Homo sapiens: one gene and its partners. The protein of the gene in region 1 interacts with the protein of each later gene in a pairwise test. Each region holds a gene or a part of one and is shown on either strand. Other genes may lie near its edges.

What was found. Proteins that work in one complex are often made in the same cells at the same time.
Region 2: the proteins of TMEM229B (region 1) and SYT2 interact in binary tests that used the Homo sapiens proteins (3 or more experiments, as listed by UniProt).
Region 3: the proteins of TMEM229B (region 1) and PKMYT1 interact in binary tests that used the Homo sapiens proteins (3 or more experiments, as listed by UniProt).

The regions. Positions count from the first base shown.
Region 1 is NC_000014.9:67,471,461-67,478,955, forward strand, and holds part of TMEM229B (transmembrane protein 229B), read right to left. Parts: intron 2,482-7,495; 5' UTR 2,478-2,481; coding exon of another isoform or gene 2,464-2,477; coding exon 1,960-2,463; 3' UTR 1-1,959.
Region 2 is NC_000001.11:202,707,455-202,714,762, reverse strand, and holds the start of SYT2 (synaptotagmin-2), read left to right. Parts: upstream 1-4,308; 5' UTR 4,309-4,505; intron 4,506-7,308. UniProt on the Homo sapiens protein: Exhibits calcium-dependent phospholipid and inositol polyphosphate binding properties. May have a regulatory role in the membrane interactions during trafficking of synaptic vesicles at the active zone of the synapse.
Region 3 is NC_000016.10:2,977,447-2,985,351, forward strand, and holds the start of PKMYT1 (membrane-associated tyrosine- and threonine-specific cdc2-inhibitory kinase), read right to left. Parts: upstream 3,001-7,905; 5' UTR 2,840-3,000; exon of another isoform or gene 2,773-2,839; intron 2,548-2,772; exon of another isoform or gene 2,467-2,547; 5' UTR 2,212-2,466; coding exon 2,202-2,211; exon of another isoform or gene 1-2,201. UniProt on the Homo sapiens protein: Acts as a negative regulator of entry into mitosis (G2 to M transition) by phosphorylation of the CDK1 kinase specifically when CDK1 is complexed to cyclins. Mediates phosphorylation of CDK1 predominantly on 'Thr-14'. Also involved in Golgi fragmentation.

The DNA of each region.
Region 1 (7,495 bases):
TTCTCCTCCTGGAATTTTCTCCACCTATAGATGGAAAACAATCTACTCCCACCGGAAGCCTGATTCTCTGTAACCCCCAAAGCCCTGGAATTGGGGCCACAATAAAATCAAAAGGAGGGCTGGCCACTGCAGAAAGTAGTTCATCCCTGGATTTGAGGAGCCTGCCCAGGAAATAGGCTAGGAAATACCCTTCGTTCTGCTCTGGACGGGGCTAACTGCAGAAAATCCTGCCAAAGGCAGAGTCTGCAAGCTTTTCTCCAGACCTAGGACACAACTGTGGCCCACCCCACCACACCCTGCACCCCACCACACCCTGCACAGTATGGGCAGGGCAGCCAGCAGGGAAGAGGACATTCTCTCCACAGGTGATACCGTCACTTTGTAATGATCCATAAAAAGGGGAAGGCTAATTTCTACCTAAGAGTCCTAGTGTGGTCAAGAAGAGACCATGTACCATGGGGTGGGCCACTTTCTAACGGACCCTTCCCCTTGAGGAGTGAGAGTCAGAGCCGGAAGTAGGCTGGAGTGAGTATTTCACCTGTCCACTGCCAGCAATGGACCTGTCACAGGACAAAGTGGGGCAGGGGAACCAAGGTGCCAATGCCCATGAGTGTGGCAGGGTTAATACTGTTTAAGGAGTGAGCTCAAAGGGTCAGCCTTGCTGGGAGGAGTTTGGGGAGAGGGGCAGCCCTGAGGTTCTGCTACCAGGGCTGAGGCTCTGGCAGAACCAGAACTGATACCCTCCCACAAAGGAGGCTCCAAGGAGCCTTCCACAGCTGCAAGGTCCTCCTCTCTTTCTTCCTCTCATTCTCCATCAGTCTCCAATGCTGGATACCTGGCTTCTCCATCCCATAGAAAGCTAGACTGCTCAGTTTTGGCTTGAAAATAAACCAGGCAGGGAATAGATGACCTAGAACTCTGGCTTTTCCCCACCAAACTGACTTGCCTCTAGGTCCCCACTGTGGATCCACAGGGCCTAACCCAGCCTGCCTGTGCATTGGAGGGCATCATTTGTTCTCAGCTGAGCCACTGAGAAGGGAGCACTGCCACAGCCCACTAGACCGGGGGTAGGGAGGTGTAACTCAGGAACTCCCCAGGCATCAGGCCAGCCGGAACAGTGGAGGGAAGGGCTGCAAGGGGGTGAGGGTTGGGGGTGTCTCAGGGCTTCATCTCCGGCAGCTCCTGTGCTGGCTAGGGAGCTGGGGTGGGGCAGGTGTGGCGACCGACGTGGATAAAGAGCCGCTAGTGGTAAAGGCTTTGAAAACAAGACAGAAAAGGGGGAAACGCCACCGAACACACGGGGATTGAAACCTCCAAAAGCCCAAGGTTGGTGGGAATCCAGCACCACGGGGGCCCCAGAAGGCCAAGGGAGCAGCGCAGGGCCCTGGGGGAGGGGAGAGGAGCCAAGGGAGGGTCTCCCAGCCCTTGCAGACCAGCGTTGCTGCCACGCAGCCTCCTGGCTGCCCAGTCTCTCCTCGGCTGCAGCTCAGCAGGCCCCTGGGGAGGTATTGGTTGCAAGCAAGCACCTGAATATTGCCTAATGGAACCAGCCAAAGCTCAACTAAATCCAGATCGGAGGGAGGGAGGTCAGGCCTTGCCTCCCACCTGCGGCCCCATTCTCATTGTCCCTTGGCCAGGACAGGGCCTGCTGCTTCCAAAGTCAACTACATAGTCCATCGCTGCTCAGCCACAGGCCTCCTGGTACCAACCCCTGAACTGGGCCGCGATCCATGGACCCTTCCCAATGTCCCTCTGCTGCCTCCACACCCCATCCCCCAACACCTGACCACGGCCCCCCAACACCGGCCCCCGCGGACGTTAGGGGGCTCTGTGTGCCCTATAGGGCTGAGGCTTGGCCGGAGCAGGGCTTTTGCTGCATGGATGGGGCAACCTCACCAGCTTGGTCTCTTTGTCCATGAGTTCCATGAGAGATCCCCAGGCCCCCCACCCGCTTCCTGCTCAGTCAGTCTTGACATGGCCGTTGGCCAGGGCTAGGGCGCCGCTGGGCTCCCCGGGCTCAGCGTCCTTGTCGAAGCGGAGGCGGAGGGTGTTGCGGATGATGAACTGCTCCATGATGAGGGCCCCGCAGAACCAGGGCACGGCGTACTCCAGGGTGATGAGGCCCATGAAGTCAAAGTCGAACTGGGAGTAGTCCCAGGGGCAGGCGTTGAACTGGCGCAGGATGAAGCCGGTGGTGAACTCCCACAGGTAGGTCCAGAGCGTGTAGATGAGGCAGCGCAGGAGCAGCGGGCAGCGGCCGCGCAGCCGCAGGTACATGCGCTCCACGATGAGGATGGAGGTGCCGTAGATGAAGAGGGCCCACACGCTCGTGACCCCAGGGAACTTCCAGTTCAAGTTCACCACGAACTCCCAGGCCGCTGTGAACATCACCTCGCAGAAGTAGCCGTGGATGGCATACAGGTACCAGCGGGACAGCGCCGTCAGGGGCTCGGCAGACGCCATGGCGCCGACTGGGGCTGGCTGCGGGGGGCGCAAGAGAGACAGGTGAGGGCCGGGCGCGGTGGCTCACGCCTATAATCCCTGCGCTTTGGGAGGCCGAGGCGGCGGATCACTTGAGGTCAGGAGTTCCAAACCAGCCTGGCCATCATGGTGAAACCCCGTCTCTACTAAAAATACAAAAATTAGCCTGGCGTGGTGGCCCGCTCCTGTAATCCCAGCTACTTGGGAAGCTGAGGCAGAAGAATCGCTTGAACCCGCAAGGCAGAGGTTGGAGTGAGCCAAGATTGCGCCACTGCACTCCAGCCTGGGAGACAGAGTGAGACTCTGTCTCCAAAAAAACAAAACAAAAAAAAAACAGAGCAAAGAACAGAATAACCCACCCACCCCACTGACTTCTCTGCAACTCTACCCAAATGCTACTTAGAGGGAGGTGTCTGTACTCCCTAGAGCTTTTTTGGATTATCTGTGGTCAGTTGAAGAGTCGGCTGGCCTGCTGCACCAATCAGCCCCATTTCTAGACTACTTGCTGATTTCTCAGCAGGCCTATCCACTGGGGACCCCATTTCTTCCTCCACTTCTTCTCAAACAGTTCCATGTCACTCATATTTCTGAGATGTAAGTGACTCATCACATTTGTCCTTGTGTGTGTGCATGCCATTTTTTAACCATGTGTAAGTGTACAATTCAGTGGTCTTAAGTACATTCACATTGTTGTGCAACTGTCACCACCAACCATCTCCAGAACTTTTTCATTGTCCCAAACAGAAACTTTGTATCCATTAAATACAAACTCCCATTCCCCATACCCTCAGCCCCTGGCAACCACTATTCTATTTTCTGTCTCTATGAATTTGACTACTCTGGGTGCCTCATATAAGTGGAATCATACAAACACTGTCCTTTTGTGACTGGCTTAGCATAACTGGCTTAGCTTTCACTTAGCCTAATGTCTTTAAGGTTCATCCATGTTGCAGCACATGTCAGAATTTCCTTCTTTTTTTTTTTTTTTTTTTGTGACGGAGTCTCGCTCTGTCGTCCAGGCTGGAGTGCAGTGGCGCAATCTTGGCTCACTGCAACCTCCGCCTCCTGGGTTCAAGCGATTCTCCTGTCTCAGACTCCTGAGTAGCTGGGACTACAGGCACACACCATCATGCCCGGCTAATTTTTGAATTTTAGTAGAGACGAGGTTTCACCATGTTGCCCAAGCTGGTCACAAGCCCCTGAGCTCAGGTGATCCGCCCGCCTTGGCCTCCCAAAGTGCTAGGATTACAGGCGTGAGCCACTGTGCCCAGCCAGAATTTCCTTCCTTTTAAAGGCGGAATCATATTCCATTGTATATATCACCATATTTTGTTTATCCATTCATCCATTGATGGACACCTGGGTTGCTTCTACCTTTTGGCTACTCAAAATAAGGCTGCTATGAACACGGGTGTACAAAGGTCTGTCTGAGTCCCTGCTCTCAACTCTTTCAAGTACATATGCAGAAGTGGAAATACTGGATCATATGGTAATTCTATGGTTAACTTTCTGAGGAACCACTGTGCTGTTTTCCACAGTGGCCACACCATTTTACATTCCCCATCAGCAATGTACAAGGGTTCCAATTTCTCCACATCCACCCCAAACACTTGTTATTTTCTGTTTTGTTTTTATAATGGCCATCCTAATGGGTGTGAGGTGGTTCTCTCATTGTGGTCACATTTGTCTTTGCTCCATTAAATGGGGTTTTGGTGTTTGGTTTCAGTGCTGAGGGGAAACCAATGGATTGACACAGGAAAGAGTCCTCCCCAGTCCTTCTGGCTCCTTTCCCCTCCCCTCTTTTAAACCCCACCAGTCTTCAACGCCCGGCTCCCATGCTGCTTCTCTCTACTTTCTCCTCACCCTCCACCAGCGACTGTCTGCACCACTTACCTGGCCCATTATCAGGTGCCACCCCAATGGCTTTTTGAGGTATGTGCTCTCATGATCCAACTAGCATGTGAACTCCTTGAGGATAGTGACTGTTGCACAGGCCAGTGCTTTGTGGCCTTGACGCAGGCCCGTCCTGGGCAGGCCCTCTCTAAATGACATGTCCTGTTCATGTGGAGGGAGGTGTGGGACTGCATCAAGAATGGGAAGGTAGGGCTTGAGAACATAAATCCCAGCTCTGCCAGCTGCTAATGGCTTCACATCTCTGTCGATCCCCTCTCCAAGGTGGGAGAAAAGACAGAGGTTAAGGAAATGGCATCTGTAGTATGCACACCTGTCTGGGAATTCCAGCCTCACATTTCAGCTGAAGCAGGCCTGGTCACATTAATACCTACCCAGCCTTGTGCATTGCTCTGTGGTCTTCCAAGCACTTCGTTCGCATTTTGTCATGGTTCTTACATAATTAAAATTCAGGCTGGGCGCAGTGGCTCACACCTGTAATCCCAGAACTGTGAGAGGCTGAGGCGGGTGGATCACCTGAGGTCAGGAGTTTGAGAACAACCTGGCCGACATGGTGAAACCCTGTCTCTACTAAAAATACAAAAATTAGCTGGGTGTGGTGGCATGCACCTGTAGTCTCAGCTACTTGGGAGGCTGAGGCAGAAAAATTGCTTGAACCCAGGAGGCGGAGGTTGCAGTGAGCCAAGATCATGCCACTGCACTCCAGCCTGGGCAACAGAGCAAGACTTCCTCTCCAAAAAATATATTTATAAATAAAATAAAAAAGATTCATGTGAAGGTCAGAAAATTTTACTCCCATTTTTTTGCAGTGAGACAGAGCTCAGAGAGGGGACATTATTTACCCCATATCCCAGGGCCAGTAAATGGAAGAGCTGAGATTAGAACCAATATCTCTTGCTTTCTACTGCAGAACTCATCCCCTGCACATGACTGCCCATCTCTTAGACATACGTACCAAATGTCTCTCCCCTGCTCAAAAATGCTCGATAGTGGCTGGGCACAGTGGCTCACGCCTGTAATCCCAGCACTTTGGGAGGCGGAGATGGGCAGATCACCTGAGGTCAGGAGTTCAAGACCAGCCTGACCAAAATGATGAAACCCTGTCTCTACTAAAAATACAAAAAAACAATGGATGGGTAGGTATTAATGTGACCAGGCCTGCTTCAGCTGAAATGTGGTGGCATGCGCCTATAATCCCAGCTACTTAGGAGGCTGAGACAGGAGAACCGCTTGAACCTGGGAGGTGGAGGTTGCAGTGAGTCGCGATCGCACCATTGCACTCCAGCCTGGACAACAAGAGCGAAACTCCATCTCAAAAAAAAAAAAAAAATGTTCGATATCTCCTTATTTCCTAATGAAACACAACAGCATCCTTGGCCTGCCATTCAAGATTCTTCATGACCTTGCCCCGATTGACATCTTCAGCCTTTTCCTCACAATCCAGCTCTTCCTGTCTTTCATCTCCATGCCTTTGCAGGTCCTATTCATTCTGTTAGGCGTGCCTTTCTCCTCTCACTTCCATGAGTATAAACCAGCTTGCAGGTTACCTTCAGAACAAAATCTCTTTCATTCCCCCAGGTCCCAAGGCTTCTCTTCCTCTTCTGAATTTCTACAGCACTTACTCTGTCTCACTCCCTTTGCTACAGGTTATTTTCAATATTATATTGAGAATTTCTGTCCCCGGCCAGACCTCTTTCCTGTGTGCTACACCTATAGCTCCTGCCCTTCCCTAGACAGCTCCCCCTAATGTCCCACAGGCATCCCAAACTCCTTTCCTAAATCAAACCCATGGGCAGGTGTGGTGGCTTATGCCTGTAATCCTAGCACTTTGGGAGGCAGAGGCAGAAGGATCGCTCGAGCCCAGAACTCTTGAATTCAAGACTAGCCTAGACAATGCAGTGAGACTCTGTCTCTAAAAAATAAATAAATAAAATCAAACCCATTATCTTTTCCCCAAAACCTGTTTCTCTCCTAAGACCCCCACCCCAATTAATGGCACCACCATGCACCCAGTTAGAACCAGCGGTCTCAAAGTCTGTCTGGCTTCCTCTGCCACATCCCCACCCTAACATGAGTTCCTGAGAGTGAGGGCCTTGCCTGCCTGGTTCAGCATAGTATTCCCAGTGCCTGGCACAAAGCCCAGCACATAGTAAGCATTCAAGAGAAGAATAAAGACATTTCTTAGTTAGCAATCGCCATATAACAAATCATCTCAAAAACCCTGGCCTAAAACAACTACCGTCTACTATTACAGCTCACATGTCTGTGGTTGGCAGACGGCTGGGGCAGCGTAGCTCCACTCCACCTGTCTCTCATCCTCCTCCGGGGCCCAGTGGACTTGCCTGGGCATATTCTTCTCATGGCAAGGGCAGAGGCACAAAGCTGAGCAAGGCTAGCTGTACAAGTGTGGTTCAAGACCCTGGCTAAGCCATGCCCACCATCATCCCACTGGCCAAGGGAAAGCCACCAAGTCAGCTACTAACTCCCACCCTTACCACCTCTTAAATATCTTTGGGATCCATCCCCTCCTCTTCATTACTCTTCTCATTGCTGCCACTGCTCTGGTTCACGCCCTCATCATGTCTCACCTGGATGACTCCAAAGGTCTCCCAGCTTTGCCTTCTTCCTTCTAATTCACTCATCACAGGATGAAAGAGTGTGTAGAAAAAACGCAACCTTTCTAAAATGCAAATCCGATGTTTCTCACCACTTGAAGCCCATGAGTGGATCTTCAACATCTACAGAGTAAATAAAGCTCAAACCCCTGGGGACGGCTGGCAAAGCCCTTCACAACTCGTCCCTGCCTCCAATCCTGTCCTCCAGATCTCTACCTTGCTGTTTTTGCTACCTGGGCCCCACCCAGGGCCGGTGAACCCTCCTTTAAGACCCAGCTCCTCCTCTGTGAGGACTTTCCTAAGCACCCTGACTCCAGAGTTGTCTTCCCACTTCTGCACCCTCCCTTCTCTGTGGTAATAGTGAGCACTCTGCTTCACTGGATTCATCTGAACGCCAGCACCAGCAGCCTCCTGAGGAATGCTTGTTTAAGATAGTGGTAAGAGAAAAAAGCAGGATTCAAAACTGAATATTCAACCTAACTCCGATT
Region 2 (7,308 bases), on another chromosome or scaffold:
TGATTTCTTTCCCCACATCTGATCAGTTCATGTCTTCTGTATTGAAAGCATTCTGAGGTCAGGCTCAGTGGCTCACGCTTGTAATCCCAGCACTTTAGGAGGCCGAGACGGGAGGATCGCTTGAGTCTGGGAATTCAAAACCAGCCTGGGCAACATAGAGAGACCCTATCTCTACACAGAATTAAAAAATTAATGGGGCATGGTGGTGCACACCTGTAGTTCCAGTTACTAGGGAGGCTGAGGCAGGAAGATCACTTGAGCCTCAAGGCTGCAGTGAGCCCTGATTGTGCCACTGCACTTCAAACTGGGTGACAGAGCAAGACCCCCATCTCAAAATAAATAAATAAATAAATAAATAAATAAATAAATAAATAAAGTAAAATAAAGAAAAGAATTTAAAAAAAGTATATTATGGGATATCTAAAAGTTGACTGTAGAATGAAATATGTTATTATTATTTTTTTGAGATGGAGTTTCACTCTTGTTGTCCAGGCTGGAGTGCAGTGGCACAATCTCAGCTCTCTGCAGCCTCTGCCTCCCGGGCACAAGGATTCTCCTGCCTCAGCCTCCCGAGTAGTTGGGATTACAGGCGCCTGTCACCATGCCTGGCTAATTTTTGTATTTCTAGTAGAGACGAGGTTTCACCATATTGGCCAGGCTGATCTCGAACTCCTGACCTCAGGTGATCTGCTTGCTTCAGCCTCCCAAAGTGCTGGGATTACAGGCGTGAGCCACTACACCTGGCCAGACATATATTATTGAAGAGTAAGTAGTATAATGGTTATAAACACTGAGCAGGGCCTTAGCAAAATAGGTAGCTACTATCATGTGGCTTAGGGAAATGAAAATAGCTCAGTGGAGCTAGAGTATAGGTAGTATAGGGTAATTTAAATAAAAGTTAAAGTATATTTAAGCTTGGTATGTCTACAAAATTAGATTAAAAGAAGAAAACCAAGACCTTTAGTGATAGGAATTGCATGTAATTTTTTTTTTTTTTTTTTTTGAGACGGAGTTTCACTCTTGTTGCCCAGGCTGGAGTACAGTGGCATGATCTCGGCTCACTGCAACCTCCGCCTTCTGGTTTCAAGCGATTCTCCTGCCTCAGCCTCCTGAGTAGCTGGGATTACAGGCACCCACCACCACACCTGGCTAATTTTTGTATTTTTAGTAGAGGTGGGGTTTCACCATGTTGGCCAGGATGGTCTCAAACTCCTGGCCTCGCGATCTGCCCGCCTCAGCTTCCCAAAGGGCTAGACTTATAGGCGTGAGCCACTTTGCCCAGCTGTAAGTTTTAAAGAACCATTTACTCAGTTACAACCAGTAAAGCAGGCGTGTTTCAGAGGAGAGTTTAGTCATTGTTTGCTTAATTGTCAGGAACAATACAAACTGCTCTGGAAGAATAATACGGGTATGTGCAGGGGGTGGGAGGGCAAGAACAACAGCTTTCTGAAGGGGTGTTTGTTTCTGTGTGTATCAAGAGAAAGCAGGAAATGGGAGCTGGCTAGGTCAGCGGTGATGAAGACTCTCTCTCCTGTCCCAGCTCATTTCTGTTTGCTCTAACTATGACAGCAGGGCTTGGAACAAGTTTGCAGGGATGAAGGCCTGACCAGAACATCAGGGAAACAATCCAAGTGTGAGGTAGTGCAAGTGCTAGTAGACCTATGATCAAGGATGGACAAAAAGGGAATTCTTTAAGCAGAAGGTGGGTGGCAGGCAGGAAAAGTACAGGGGCTTTCAGTCCCCAGGGAAAGCTGTGACAGGGGCACGATGCAGCAGCTCCCTGCTCTCTTCTCTCTCCTCCCTAGAAAAAAACAGAAAATGAAGCCACCAGGAAGCACACTATTCAGCAGAAAGTGGTAAAACAATGTAATTGAGGGAGTTGTAGACTTTCTTCCTGAAAAACGCTCAGTGTTAGATAGCTCTCCCCCACCTTTTGTGGGTTCAAAATGACCTTGTGTGGAAGCAGAGGGATTGCCCTGATGGCCCTGCATGTGCATGCAATTGAGTGATGCTGGTCTAAGATACTAGAGGCTCATCTTTCTACAATGATGAACAGTTGAAAAGCAAAGTATCTAATAATAGGCTGGGTGTGGAGGGGGTGGATGTCTTTTCCATTCTTTCCTCTTCCAGCTCCTGAAGCCTGGGGGAATAAGCAAGAGGGATGTTGAGCTCTTGATTAGGTTTGTAACCCAGACACTACTGGTCCTGATGAATTAAAAGAACATTAAGGCTGTAGCCAGCGACACCACATTTTTCATTTAACCAAATTGATTACAGCTCTGACTCTCCTAATAGCCTGGGAAGGCAGGCTGGCTTCCTCTGACGTGCTTAGGAGAAGAAGCTGGGGCACCAGATTGACACAAGGCTTTGATCAGAACAGTAGGCAGCTGAGTCTGCTGCCGTGGAAAAGTTGAAGCGCATCAGGCCAGTTCGCTTGGCTTGATTCTGTGCGAGGGGGCTGCAGCCCTCTTTCTGGCTGGAGTCCTGCAGATACTGGTTGTTGGCATGGGGAGCAGGAAGGAATGAATAGAGTAGAGCCAGCCCCTTTGGGGAAGCAACAAGTCCTGGAACACACCTGGCTAAGGGTGGGGGTGGTGGGTAACCTCTTTGAATGTAAAGGTCTCATTAGTCCATTGTAACTTGGCTCCCCATTTCCTCCACTGCCCTTGTTCTGGCTGCTCCACAGGTGAAGGGGGAGGGCCTCTGTGCCTCAGGGGCTGTGAGCACAGCTTCAGCCTGATTGAGGACTCCCCAGAGGTCTTCCCCCACCTTTTTCGTAACATCCACTGAGTCGGCAGCCACTTGCCGCCTTGCTCTGAGGCAAGCCAAACTGGGGATAGTCTCCAACTGGGGATGGTCTGCCAGTAACACCTGGTATTATTGGCACAGTGATCTGAAAAGTGCCCTCCACTGCCTCTTCTCTCCCCAAAGCCTGAATCCCACTTGTTCTTTGCATCTCCTCATATTGCATTCATTCCACCTCTCACTCACTCACCTAGTACGTATTGAAGACTGACCTCAGGCCATGTACGGTTTTGTACCCAAAAGCGAGGCAGGATGCTACAGTCCTATTATAAAAGTTAACTCCAGGCCAAGCGCAGTGGCTCATGCTTGTAATCCCAGCACTTTGAGAGGCTGAAGTGGGTGGATCCCTTGAGGTCAGGAGTTCGAGACTAGCCTGGCCAACATGGCAAAACCCCATCTCTACTAAGAATACAAAAATTAGCCGGGTGTGGTGGCGCACGTCTGTAATCCCAGCTGCTCGGGAGGCTGAGGCGGGAGAATCCCTTCAACCCAGGAGGCAGAGGTGGCAGTGAGCCAAGATCGCGCCACTGCACACTGCACTGCAGGTTGGGTAACAGAGTGAGACTTGTCTAAAAAAAAAAGAAAAAAAAAAGTTAACTCCAAAAGAGTTAAAGCGGATATTCAAATTGTGCTGTAAGGAAGTTCTGGTGCTGCCCTGGCAGCTCCTGGGTAGGTTAGGAAGGGCTCTGTTTTGCCCTTGCCACCCTTCTCTTTCTCCCAGGCTCTTCCGAAATGCCACCACTTAACTGTCTGCAGCTCCTTGGTCCAACGCACCATTCAGGGACTGTTTCCCCACCTGCAAACTGCCCACGCAAAATGCCCACCTTAAAGGGATGTCTTACGTATTAAGCAAACTAACATGTGTGAACACCCTGTCTTTAATAACCAGTAGCGTCCTCCTTTTCTTTCTACCGTCTTCCAGCTCCTCTCTCCTTGTCACCCTGCAGTTCTTACTCTCCCCTCCGCTGTTCTATTTCCATAGGCCTCAGGCACCGCTGTCTTCTCTCAAGCATCCTCCTCTCTCTCACCCAACCTTTAGGCTCAGAAGCCCCCACCATCCAGGTGGCCAATATAGGTAGCGGTGACCTAAGCGGAGAGGGGAGGAGGGGAGGCTAGGGGCTCAGGGATCCCAAAATGGCCATGGGGATGGGGGCTCCTGAGCCCAATAATTTAGCCTTGAGCTGCAGTGGGTTCGGGAAGTTGGAGAGAAGGAGCTGGCTAGAAAGGAGACCAGCCTTCTGGGGTGGGGAGTATAGAGCTCCTTTCCAGTCCGCCTTCCTGCTGGGGAAGCAGCCTCCTTGACCTTGAGCAGGAGGCGGGGGCGCCGAGCGCCTGGGGGGCTGCGCAGAAAGAACCCGTCCCGGGGGGCAGGCCCGCCCTCCGCCTCCTCCGGGCCTCCTCCGCCTCGGTCCCCGCCCTCCCACGCCGCTTGGTCTCCTCCCCTCACTGCAGCGCTCGCCGCGCGCGCCCATCGATCAGGCCCCCTCCCTCTGCCGCCTCGGCGCAGACTGCTAAGCTCAGCAAGTCTTGCGGCAAAGGCACTTCGGAGCCGAGTTGGGGCAGCGGTGGAGCGGGGACTTCGCGCCCCCAGGGGAACGGGCGCCCCTGCGAAACCGTCGCCAGCCACGCGTCCTTGCCGTCCGACGCCCCCTCACATTGGAGACCCCGGATCTCTCCCGCCTCCTTCGGGTCGCTCTCCGGTAAGTCCATACCCCCGCCGGTGGGGGCACGGACCTCCCTCTCCAAAGTTTCTCCTTTCCTGCTACTGAGTCGAGGGGCCACGGGGTGGTCTGGGTCCCGAGAGGTGAGTAGGGTTGGGGAAGTTTGAGGCCAAGGGGGCCGGGAGTCTGCCCCGTCCTTTGGGGGAGTTTGGAAGCGTCCGGATGGAAGGTTCGTCTCGGGGAGTCGGACCCGAGGGGCGAGGAGCCGGCTCCTCTGAGGGACTGGGGCTGGGCTGGGGGCAGATTTCCTCCCGCGGGTTGCTGCAGAGAGGGGCGGGCCACGCGTCCCCTGCACCGGCCGGCTCTGCGCCCCCGTCCCTCTCTCCTTTCCCTGGGACGAACCCACTCGCGTCTAGCCCAGCCCCCGCCAGCCCTAGCGGTCTCCAAGGAAGGTTCTTTTGCCCCAGTCTCAAGCTTCGGGGACCCCTGGCACCGCCGTCGTGGGAAGTGGGGCGGGGGGTGGGGTCTGGGCGCTGGGAGCCGGAGACCCTGGGTCAGGGAGAGGTTGGGGAGACAGACTGCAGGGGCCATCTGGAAGCAACGGGCACGAGGAGCTGGGGCAGGGGCCCAAGAAGGGGCTGGAGGCGCCCCTCCCCTCTCTCCAAATCTCATGACTCAGCACGACCTAGGACGCCCCGTCCCTGCTTCAGCTCTGTCCCCAAGGGCTAGGCTCGCAGCCTGGCGGGTGCTGACAGCCCGACTCCCTTTTCTGGACTCTTCCATGTACCTTTCCCATTTGGGGTGCCCCCTTCCCCTGCCTATGCTCCTTCCCCCACCTCTGGGGCACAGGGCTTTTATTTTTCAACTAAAAAGTGGAGCTTTATCGTTTCACATCCCACTAAGCCAGGCCCCCTCATCCTGTCTCCTCCCTTTTCATCCCCACATTCCACAGGTGCCTCCAGGACACCCCCAGCCCATGGCTCGTGGGGTGTCTCCTGGCAGGGCAGTGTCCTCCCTTACCCCTGGCTGAGGTGGCAGAGTAGGTGCTCTCCCCGCAGCAGGAGAAGGGAGTGCAAGGACAGAAGAGGTGCTGGCCCAGGAGGGGCCACTGCAGTGGGGAGGGAAGGGCAGAGGCCCCGTGGGCAGGTAGTACAGGTTGAGTTAGCTTATAAGGAGGAGGAAGTCCTTAGGATCTGGGGGCGCCCAGGAAGCCAGAAAGGTGAACTGGGGTCTGACCTGGAAAGCAAAAGGGTGCCCTTCTCCCTCCCCTACTGCTGCCGCCCTGCGGGGCCTCTCCCAGGTGGAATAGATTGTCCTCCATCCAATCTGTCTGGATCCCCATAACCTGGCACTTCATTAGAGGGGGTGACAGAAGCAGGGAAGCCCTTAATCCTTTCAACCATCTCTCCCTACTTAAGACTAAGTCCAGCTTTGGGGCTGCTAGAAACATCTCTGTGACCAGCAGAGGTGCTGAAAAAAGCCATGCCCAGTGCCCCAAAGGCGGGCCCGAGTGGCAGGTGGAAGGGGGCAGGGTGGCTCTGATGCAGTGGGACGTGCCTGGCATCCTGGTCCTGTGGAATGAGAGTGGTGGTCTGGCAGGCACTGCAAGCTGCAGCGTGTGTCAGGGCCCTGGGGGTGAGTCAGCGTCAGGGGTCCACGCCAGGCACACTGCAGCCTAGGGAGTCCAACTCCAACCCATCTCCTCCCATGCCCCTGGAAAATGGCCAGTGCCCACTGAACCCCGACTGAACCACCTTTCCCTCAGGGTGGCTGCCTCTGCTCTGCTTGGCTGCCAGGCAGATCCCTGGCTTCACCCTCTAGGACTCCCCCCAGAGGCTTGGCTTTTTCTGGAGATCTTTTGGGCTTAATCCTTACCTTCTCCCCTCCTTGTCTTGCCAAAGGAGGAGGAGAGGGAGGCAGAGGAAAGTTTCTAGGTTATAGCCTCACATAGACCTGGCCCACCATTCCCTGGAGGAAGAGAGACCAGACCACTCTGCTGGGAGTCTGCTTTGTTCTGCAGTCCAGGAGCTTGGTCCAGGGAACTTGGGTTTTCTTTTGGGGGAAGGGGGTGATTATGCAGGAACATTTCTTTTTCAGCTTTGGGGTCTGACATCCGCAGAACAGGACCAGGGGAAGCAAAAAGTGTTGGTGTTCGTAAACATTGACTTTTCACCTAGAGAAGCTTGCAACTGGCTTCAATTTAGGACTGAAGCTGGTTTCACCTGGGCAAAGCATGTACCTTGCTGAAGACCTCGCAGGGCCGAGGAGACCCTTTCTGGAGCTGGGTCTGGGCTCACCTGCCCTCACATTGCAGCTGGAGCTCGTTTTATTCCTTCTACCCTTAGGCAGCTTCCAGGCAGGTGTGACAGGGCTGTCTATGATACTGCAGAGACCTGGGGGTGGGCTTTGGAGGTGGCTGGAGAAGCCTCTTCCTTGCCCTTCTCAAGCCCTGGGGACCAGGCTACCCCAGTGTTCCCCAGCCCCTAGGCAAGCCTGACCTCTAGTCATTCTTTCTGCCTCCATCTGAACATTATCATATCTCAATGGGGTCTCCTTTTTCTTCCCCGCCAGGCCTGTGCCGCCCTCTCAGGGGAGAGTAGATAGAGGGGCAGTGAGTGCACTGGAAGCAGGGGGACAGAAGGCAGTGAGGACAGAGTGGGAGGAGGTTGGGCTTCATTTGCCTGGAAGAATGACCATCATTCCCTTCCCTGGACAGAAGCATCCTCGTGGAGGACTTAAGGCTGCAGATGAGTAGAAACACTACTTCACTTGGCTTTGGGATTTGCTCTGTGGACTTCCCCAGTCTAGGCAGGTCCTAGCTGAAGCCAGAGTATCCCCACCA
Region 3 (7,905 bases), on another chromosome or scaffold:
CGGAATCCCTCAAGTGTCTTTCTTTTTCATAACTGTCGTGCCAAAACCCAGTTAGTGGTGTCCACTTCCAGAATGGCAGTGTGTGCAGCTCCGTGGACCCCTGCCCCAGTGAAACAGCACAACTGATGACGATTATTCAAAAGCAAGCACTGAAAGCCTCTGGGCATGGTGCCCAGGGCACACAGCAAACAAAGGTTTACACAAGAAAACCTGCCAAGGCCTGGGAATAATGGCAAGCCTGTTGGCACCTGAGCCATGACACTCCTGCCCTCCCACCTCCAGCACCCCTCTCCCCCCGCCTAGCACTGGGGGCAGGTGTGGCCAAGAAGAAGGGCTCCCTCTCCCCCAGCTCCCCGTCAAGGGTTAGGGTGTTTGCCCAGGAGGGCCAGGTTCTCAGCACTTCTCAACCCTCCCAGCTCCACATGGCAGAGGCTAAATTCCAGCTGAGTGTGGCAGACAGGCCAGGGGCTCCTTTCTTCCACCTGCCCCCAAGCATAGAATAGAGGCTATATCTCAGGCCCGGCAGGCTGGGAACATGGAGCCCCAGCTCATTTGTAGGAAGGAGGCTCCACACTGGGAGAGGGCAACCAAGAAGGCCAGAGGCTCCTGCCCAACCCAGCGACCTGCTCCTAAAGCAATAGCAGCACTCAGAGAGGTGCCCCGCTGTCCTGCCCCCAGTTCCACAGCATGGCTCAGACAGAGATTTAGCCTAGGGGTAGACGTAGGTCATAAATAGAGCTCTCCCCACCCACCAACCCCCTGAAAATTGGCTTGATTTGAAACAGTGCGTAGGGAAGTTCAAGTTTAAAGGGGCTGTCAAAATCAGTGGAAGTTTTGGTGGTGCGCCATTAAGAAGAGACTGGTACCCGCATTAGGGCAACCAGCTGAACCATAGGCCAGCTAGTTTACCACAGAGAAGTGGAGAAAGAGCTAGCTAGGAAGAGCCTGCCTGCTGTCAGAACAAACCTCACTGACCTCAAAAGCCACCCTGTCAAAGGAGCTCAAAATTAATTGGATCTGGCCAGGCACAGTGGCTCATGCCTGTAATCCCAGCATTTTAGGAGGCTGAGGTGAGTAAATCACCTGAGGTGAGGAGTTCGAGTCCAGCCTGGCCAACATGGTGAAACCCCATCTCTACTAAAAATACAAAAATTAGCTGGGTGTGGTGGTGCATGCCTGTAGTCCCAGCTACTCGGGAGGCTGAGGCAGGGGAATTGCTTGAACCTGGGAGGCAGAGATTACAGTGAGCCAAGATCATGCCACTGCACTCCAGCCTGGGCAACAGAGCGAGACTCTGTCTCAAAAAAAAAAAAAAATTTAATTGGATTGGACCGTGGAACACTTTATGCCCCAAGGTATTGTTTGTTTGTTTGTTTTTGAGACAGGGTCTCACTCTGTTGCCCAGGCTGGAGTGCAGTGGTATGATCTCGGCCCACTGCAGCCTCCGACTCCCAGGTTCAAGTAATTCTCTTGCCTCAGCCTCCTGAGTAGCTGGGATTACAGGCGTGTGCCAACACACTAGAATAATTTTTATATTTTTAGTAGAGATGTGGTTTCACCATGTTGGTGAGGCTGGTGCACCAAAGTATTATAAAAAACAATAGAGCGGCTGGGTGTGGTGGCTCACGCCTGTAATCCCAGCACTTCGGGAGGCAAGGTGGGTGGATCACTTGAGGTCAAGACTTCGAGACCAGCCTGGCCTACATGGTGAAACCCCATCTCTACTAAAGATACAAATTTTTGCCGGGCGTGCTGGTGCATGCCTGTAGTCCCAGCTACTCAGAGGCTGAGGCAGGAGAAATGCTTGAACCCAGGAGGTGGAAGTTGCGGTGAGCCGAGATTGCGGCATTGCACTCCAACTGGGCGACAAGAGCAAAACTCCATCTCAAAAAAATATACATAATAGTAAATAAAAAATTAAAAAGAGCAGTCTCCAGTACCTGAGGGAGTACAGGGGTGAGGGGAGCGATGCTACCTGGGCCTGGCTGGCAGGCTGCCCTCCATCTTGTGGAGACTCTTCCTCTGACTCTAACTACCTCAGAGTCCCAGCCCAGGGTTTCTCCAAGTCAGGAGCCAGGGTGTTGGGATCCTGGAGGTCACTGGTCACAAGCACAGCCTCCAGGCCCAACCCTGGCACACTCGGGGACCTGGGCCTGTGCATCTTAACCCAGTTCTCCCACCGTCCCTGCCCTACGACTTACGTTCTAGCATGACTGGCCTGGCCCAACAGCCTCAGTGGTGGGACGGGGGAGGCAGGAGCAGGGGCTCCCACGTGAATCCAGGGTGTCCCTGAGCTAAGGCCAGGCGGGGGTGACCTCCGCAGCTTCCGGGGCCCTGGGCGATCGGGCCGTCTCGCCTCACCCTCTCACCAGGCCCGACACATCTGCTGGCCACCTTTCCCGGTAGACGGTAAGTTCCTCCCAGGCAGGGCCGCGGCTGACTTCACTCCGTGGGTGTGGGGAAGCCCTGGCGAACAGAGCAGTGGACGGGCTGTCACGAGGGAAGAGGGGCTGTTGCAGAAGAAGAGAGGCTGTCCCGGGGCAGGGGCTGTCACGGAGGAAGGACTGTCACGGGGAGGGCGGCGGCGCGGGGTTGATGGACAGCAGGCGGGGTCTCCGGGAGGGGCGAGTAGGGCGGGACCGCCGCTGGGAAGGGGCTCGAGGCAAGGGAACCAGGAATTGGGGAGGACGGGAGGCAGGGGCTCGCGGGGGCGGGCCTGAGGGGACGCGAGCGGGCCGCCGGGGAGGCCTGAGGGGCAGGGGTAACGCAGACCTGGCGAGGCGGAGGGGAGCGGCGAGGTGGCCACGCCGAGGCCCCTCACGGCGGGGTCTGGGCTCACCTGGGGCGACTGGGCGGGGCGCGGGTCCGCGAGGGCCCAGATTCCGGGTCCGCGGAGGCCACGGGACCCCTCGGGTGGCTCAGCGGGCCGGAGTCTGCCGTCGACTGTTCCGGACGCCCGGGCGGAGGACTCCCGTGAGGGGGAACGGCCCGTGAACGCGCGCGGAGCTGCTCGCGCCAAAAATTCCAAACCGGCCTCGAGGCTCCTCCCCCTCCCCAGTGCAGCCCGTCAGGGGTGCCCGGGCTCCGAGGCTCCGCCCCTCGTGCTGCGTGCGCGCCGCCGAGCCGCCCCGCCGCTCACTGCGCAGGCGCACAGGATTCTCCGCGCTGGCCCGGGGCGTGGGTGGCGGCCTGGTTCTGAGTCGCTGCGCGGGGCTTCAGCCGCCCAGTCCCTGGGACGCCCACTGCCCTCCAGGCCTCGCACCCGACACCCACCGCCCTCGCTGGGCTGGCGTAGTGTTTGGGTCCATAAAAGGGACCGCCATCCCGGTGCTCGGAGCAGGCGTAGCCCCAGGGTTACTCCGGGTAGGACCAGGAAGTCCCTACGGCCTCCTGGGTCCCGGCACCCCCCTTCTCACTCCGGCCGTGTTCTGAACCAGGGTCGCGGTGGGAGGCCAGACGCACGACCCCCAACCCCTAGCGCACGGCTTCGGGAGCCAGAAAAAGCCGCCTCTTCCAGGAAGCTCTCCAGATAGGCAGGACTCTGCTTGGCCTGACCTCGCCTGCCTGCAGCTTCCCTGCCAACAGGCCTCAGATACTTTTTTTTTTTTTTTTAGACAGGGTCTCACTGTCACCAAGGCTGGAATGCAGTGGTGCAGTCCCCAGGTTCAGGCGGTTCTCCCAACCTCAGCCTGCCGAGTATGTGAGATCACAGGCGCGCGCCACCGCACTCGGCTCATGTATTTTATTTTTAGACAGGGTCTCATTCTGTTGTCCAGGCTGGAGTGCAGTGGGGCGATCTCGACTCACTGTAACTTCCGCCTCCCCCGCTCAAGCGTTCCTCCCACCTCAGCCTCCTGAGTAGCTGGGACCACAGGCGCGCGCCACCACACCCAACTAATTTTTGCATTTTTTTGTAGAGACGGTGTTTTACCATGTTGGCCAAGCTAGTGTCGAACTTCTGACCTCAAGCGATCCGCCCGCCTCGGCCTCCCAGAAGGCTGGGATTACAGGCGTGAGCCACCGCGATTGGCCGCAGGATCATAGTTCACTGCAGCCTCGAGCAGCCACTTCCGGGGCAGCTCCTCCATTCTCTGAGTTTGAGACTTGCTCTCAGCTCAGATCCCTTCAGCGCTCTCCTGGCTGAACGACCTTGGGAATGCACTGAGCCTTTCTGAGCTTCGGATTAGTCTCCTCTCCTGGAAAAAAAAAAACAGCTGAGGACGCTGGGATGATCCCCTAAAGTGATTAGCAGGGGCCCTCGCGGAGCAAGTCGGGCTAGGGATTGTTCCTTCCCTCACCGAGGGGCTCTTTATCTGTTTAACTGGGTGGGAGGAGTACGCTTCCGGCCAACCCTCCCCCAAACGCTGGCCTTCTCACTCTCACCTCTCCTTCCGCCTTATTTTTGCTATTGCCCTGATCTCTGTCCGATGTTCTATCTTTTGTTTGTGAGTTTACTTGTTGACTACCTGCTCCTTCTAGCCCTGGCCTCCAGAACCAGTCCCCCAAACCCTCCATCCTCCCCAAGTCTCTGACAGGTCATGGACTGCAAAGCTTCCCACCCATTCAGTTCCTGCACCCTCTGTAAACGTTCTGTGCATGGAGCAGCAGTGTGGGGGAGGAGAGGCTGGGATCCTGGCTGGGGGCGGCAGCCCACCTGCCTGCACCTTTCCTTGTCCTTCGCATCTCTGGCGGCTGTGCCCCAGTGACTCAGGCAGGATCCTTGTTGATGACTCCAGACTGGCCCCCAGGAGGCCTGGGGCACACACAGGCCCCTCCCCAGCTGCCTAGGGCTACCTCTGCCAGCCCCATCTCCCCAACAGGTCCCCTTCCAACCGCCCATTTTTTAAAGTCTGATTCACAATGATAATTAAAAAAAAAAAAAAAAAAGCATGGAAACACATGCTTCCGATGTAAATTTCACTGTGTGAGGAAAGGCTGTAATATAAATATATGTAAATGGAAATAAGTAGATGGAGCAGATAAGTGCGTGGTGTGAGGGAAACTAGGGCTGCGATCCTGCCTGCCCCAGTTTCTGCGTGTGTAAAATGGGGATAAAAATAATAGTTTTCTAGACTAGGCAACATAGCAAGGCCCTGTCTCAAGAAAGAAAAAAGAAAGAAAAGGAAGGGAAGAAAGGGAAAGAAAAAGAGAAAGAAAGAAAGGAAAGGAAAGGAAGGAAGGAAAGAAAGGGAGAGAAAAAAAGAAAAGAAAGAAGAAATAAAGCAGTGAGGCACAGTGGTACACACCTGTAGTCCCAGCTCCTCAGGAGGCTGGAGTAGGAGGATCACTTGATCCCTGGAGTTAAAGGCCGCAGTGAGGGCCGGGTGCAGTGGCTCATGCTGGTAACCCCAGCAGTTTGGGAGGCTGAGGCAGGTGGATCACTTGAGCTCAGGAGTTCGAGACCAGGCTGGCCAATATGGTGAAACCCCTTCTCTACTAAAAATACAAAAATTAGCTGGGTGTGATGGCAGGCGCTTGTAATCCCAGCTACTCGGGAGGCTGAGGCAGAATTGCTTGAACCTGGGAGGCAGAGGTTGCAGTGAGCCCACATCGCACCACTGCACTCCAACCTGGGTGACAAGAGCGAGACTCTGTCTCAAAAAAAAAAAAAAAAAAAAAGGCTGCAGTGAGCCTGGGCAACAGAGTGAGACCCTGTAAAAAATATAAAGTGATAATAATAGTAGTTCCTCCTTCCTCGGGGAGTATGAGCACCACATGAGAAAATGCCTGTGAAGTGCTTAGCACAGAGCCGAACACACAGTAGGGGCTTACTCATTGTTTCAGAATAACAGGCTGGGCGAGGTGGTCACGCCTGTAATCCCAGCAATTTGGCAGGCTGAGGCGGGCAGGTCACTTGAGCTCAGAAGTTAGAGACCAGCCTGGGCAATATGGCAAAACCCTGTCTCTACAAAACATTCAAAAATTAGCTGGGCATGGTGGTGTGTACCTGTGCTCCCAGCTAGTCAAGAGGGTGAGGTGGGAGGATCGCTTGAGCCCAGGAGGTGGATGCTGCAGTGTGCCGAGATGGCGCCACTGCACTCCAGCCTGGGCGACAGAGCGAGACTCGGTCTCAAATTAATAATAATAATAATAATAATAATAATAATAATAATAATAATAAAATAGTAAGACCCCCTCATCTGTACAGTCTGTTGCAGTTTTCAACGCTGCAGTCTGGGCCAAAAAGAGGCCCCAGGAGGAAAGAAGCCCGGACTCCTCTAACCACCTTGGGGTCACAGGGACCGAGGCACGGGCCCACAGGGTTCCGGACCAAAGCGCTTTGCCGACCTCCTTCCAGGAGGAATCCTCCCAGCCGCCGCCCAGGCACCCGGTTCCCGCGAGTCCCACCCGCGCGACCAGGCGCGGGCCGCGCGCGCCCCCGTGTGTCCCGTCGCCGCCACAGCACCCGCGGCTCCGCCCAGACTCTCCAAGGAAGACTCACTCATGCGGTTTCGGCCACAAAAGGAAAGGCGAGGCCGGGCGCGGTGGCTCACGCCTGTAATCCTAGCACTTTGGGTGGCCGAGACGAGCGGATCACCTGAGGTCAGGAGTTTGAGACCAGCCTGGCTAACATGGTGAAACGCCGATTCTACTAAAAACACAAAAATTAGCCAGGCGTGGTGTCGGGCGCCTGTAATCCCAGTTACACAGGAGGCTGAGGCAGGAGAATCGCTTGAACCCGGGAGGCGGAGGTTGCAGTGAGCCGAGATGGCGCGACTGCACTCCAGCCTGGGCGACAAGAGCAAGACTCCGTCTCAAAAGAAAAAAAGCGAGGGAATGACGACCACAAGTGCAAACGTGGCTATCCTAATGGGAGGAAGGGGACTGTGATGGGTGCTTCTGCGGAACTGGCTATGTTCTACTTCTTGACCCAGGTGCTGGGTGCATAGGGGTTTGTCTCATAAGTACGATAGCTGCACGGCACATTCACATCTCATGTGTGCTAATCTTTGCATGCTATGTTTCACACTTGAATAAGGTTTTTTATTTTATTTATTTATTTATTTATTTATTTTCAGACGGAGCCTTGCTCTGTTGCCAGGCTGGAGTACAGTGGCGCGATCTCGGCTCACTGCAACCTCCACCTCCCGGGTTAAGCGATTCTCCGGCCTCAGCCTCCCGAGTAGCTGGGATTACAGGCGCACACCACTATGCCCAGCTGATTTTTTTATTTTTAGTAGAGACAGAGTTTCACCACGTTGGCCAGGATGGTCTCAATCGCTTGACCTGGTGATCCACCCGCCTCGGCCTCCCAAAGTGCTGGGATTACAGGCGTGAGCCACCGCGCCCAGCCTGTGTTTTGATTATTTTTGAGACAGGGTCTCACTCTGTTGCCCAGGCAATAGTATGATCACGATTCACTGCAGCCTCAACCTCCCAAGCTCAAGTGATTCTCCCACCTCAGCCTCCCAAGTAGCTGGAACCACGGGGGTGCACCACCCAACCCTGGCTAATTTTTAATTTCTTGTAGAGACGGGGGTCTCATTATGTTGCCCAGGCTGGTCTCGAGCTCCTGGGCTCAAACAATCCTCCTGCCTCGGCCTCCTGAAGTACTGGAATTATAGGCATGAGCACTGTGCCTGGCCACACTTGCATAAGGCTTTTATTTTTCTGACACTACACCAAAGGAATTGCATAAGGTTTGGTTTTGTTTTGTTTTGTTTTAAGACGGAGTTTCACTCCTGTTGCCCAGGCTGGAGTGCAGTGGTGCGATCTCGGCTCACCGCAACCTCCACCTCCCGGGTTCAAGCAATTATCCTGCCTCAGCCTCCAGAGTAGCTGGGATTACAGGCATGTGCCACCACGCCCGGCTAATTTTGTATTTTTAGTAGAGACAGGTTTTCTCCATGTGGTCAGGCTGGTCTTGAACTACCGGCCTCAGGTGATCACCCCACCTCGGCCTCC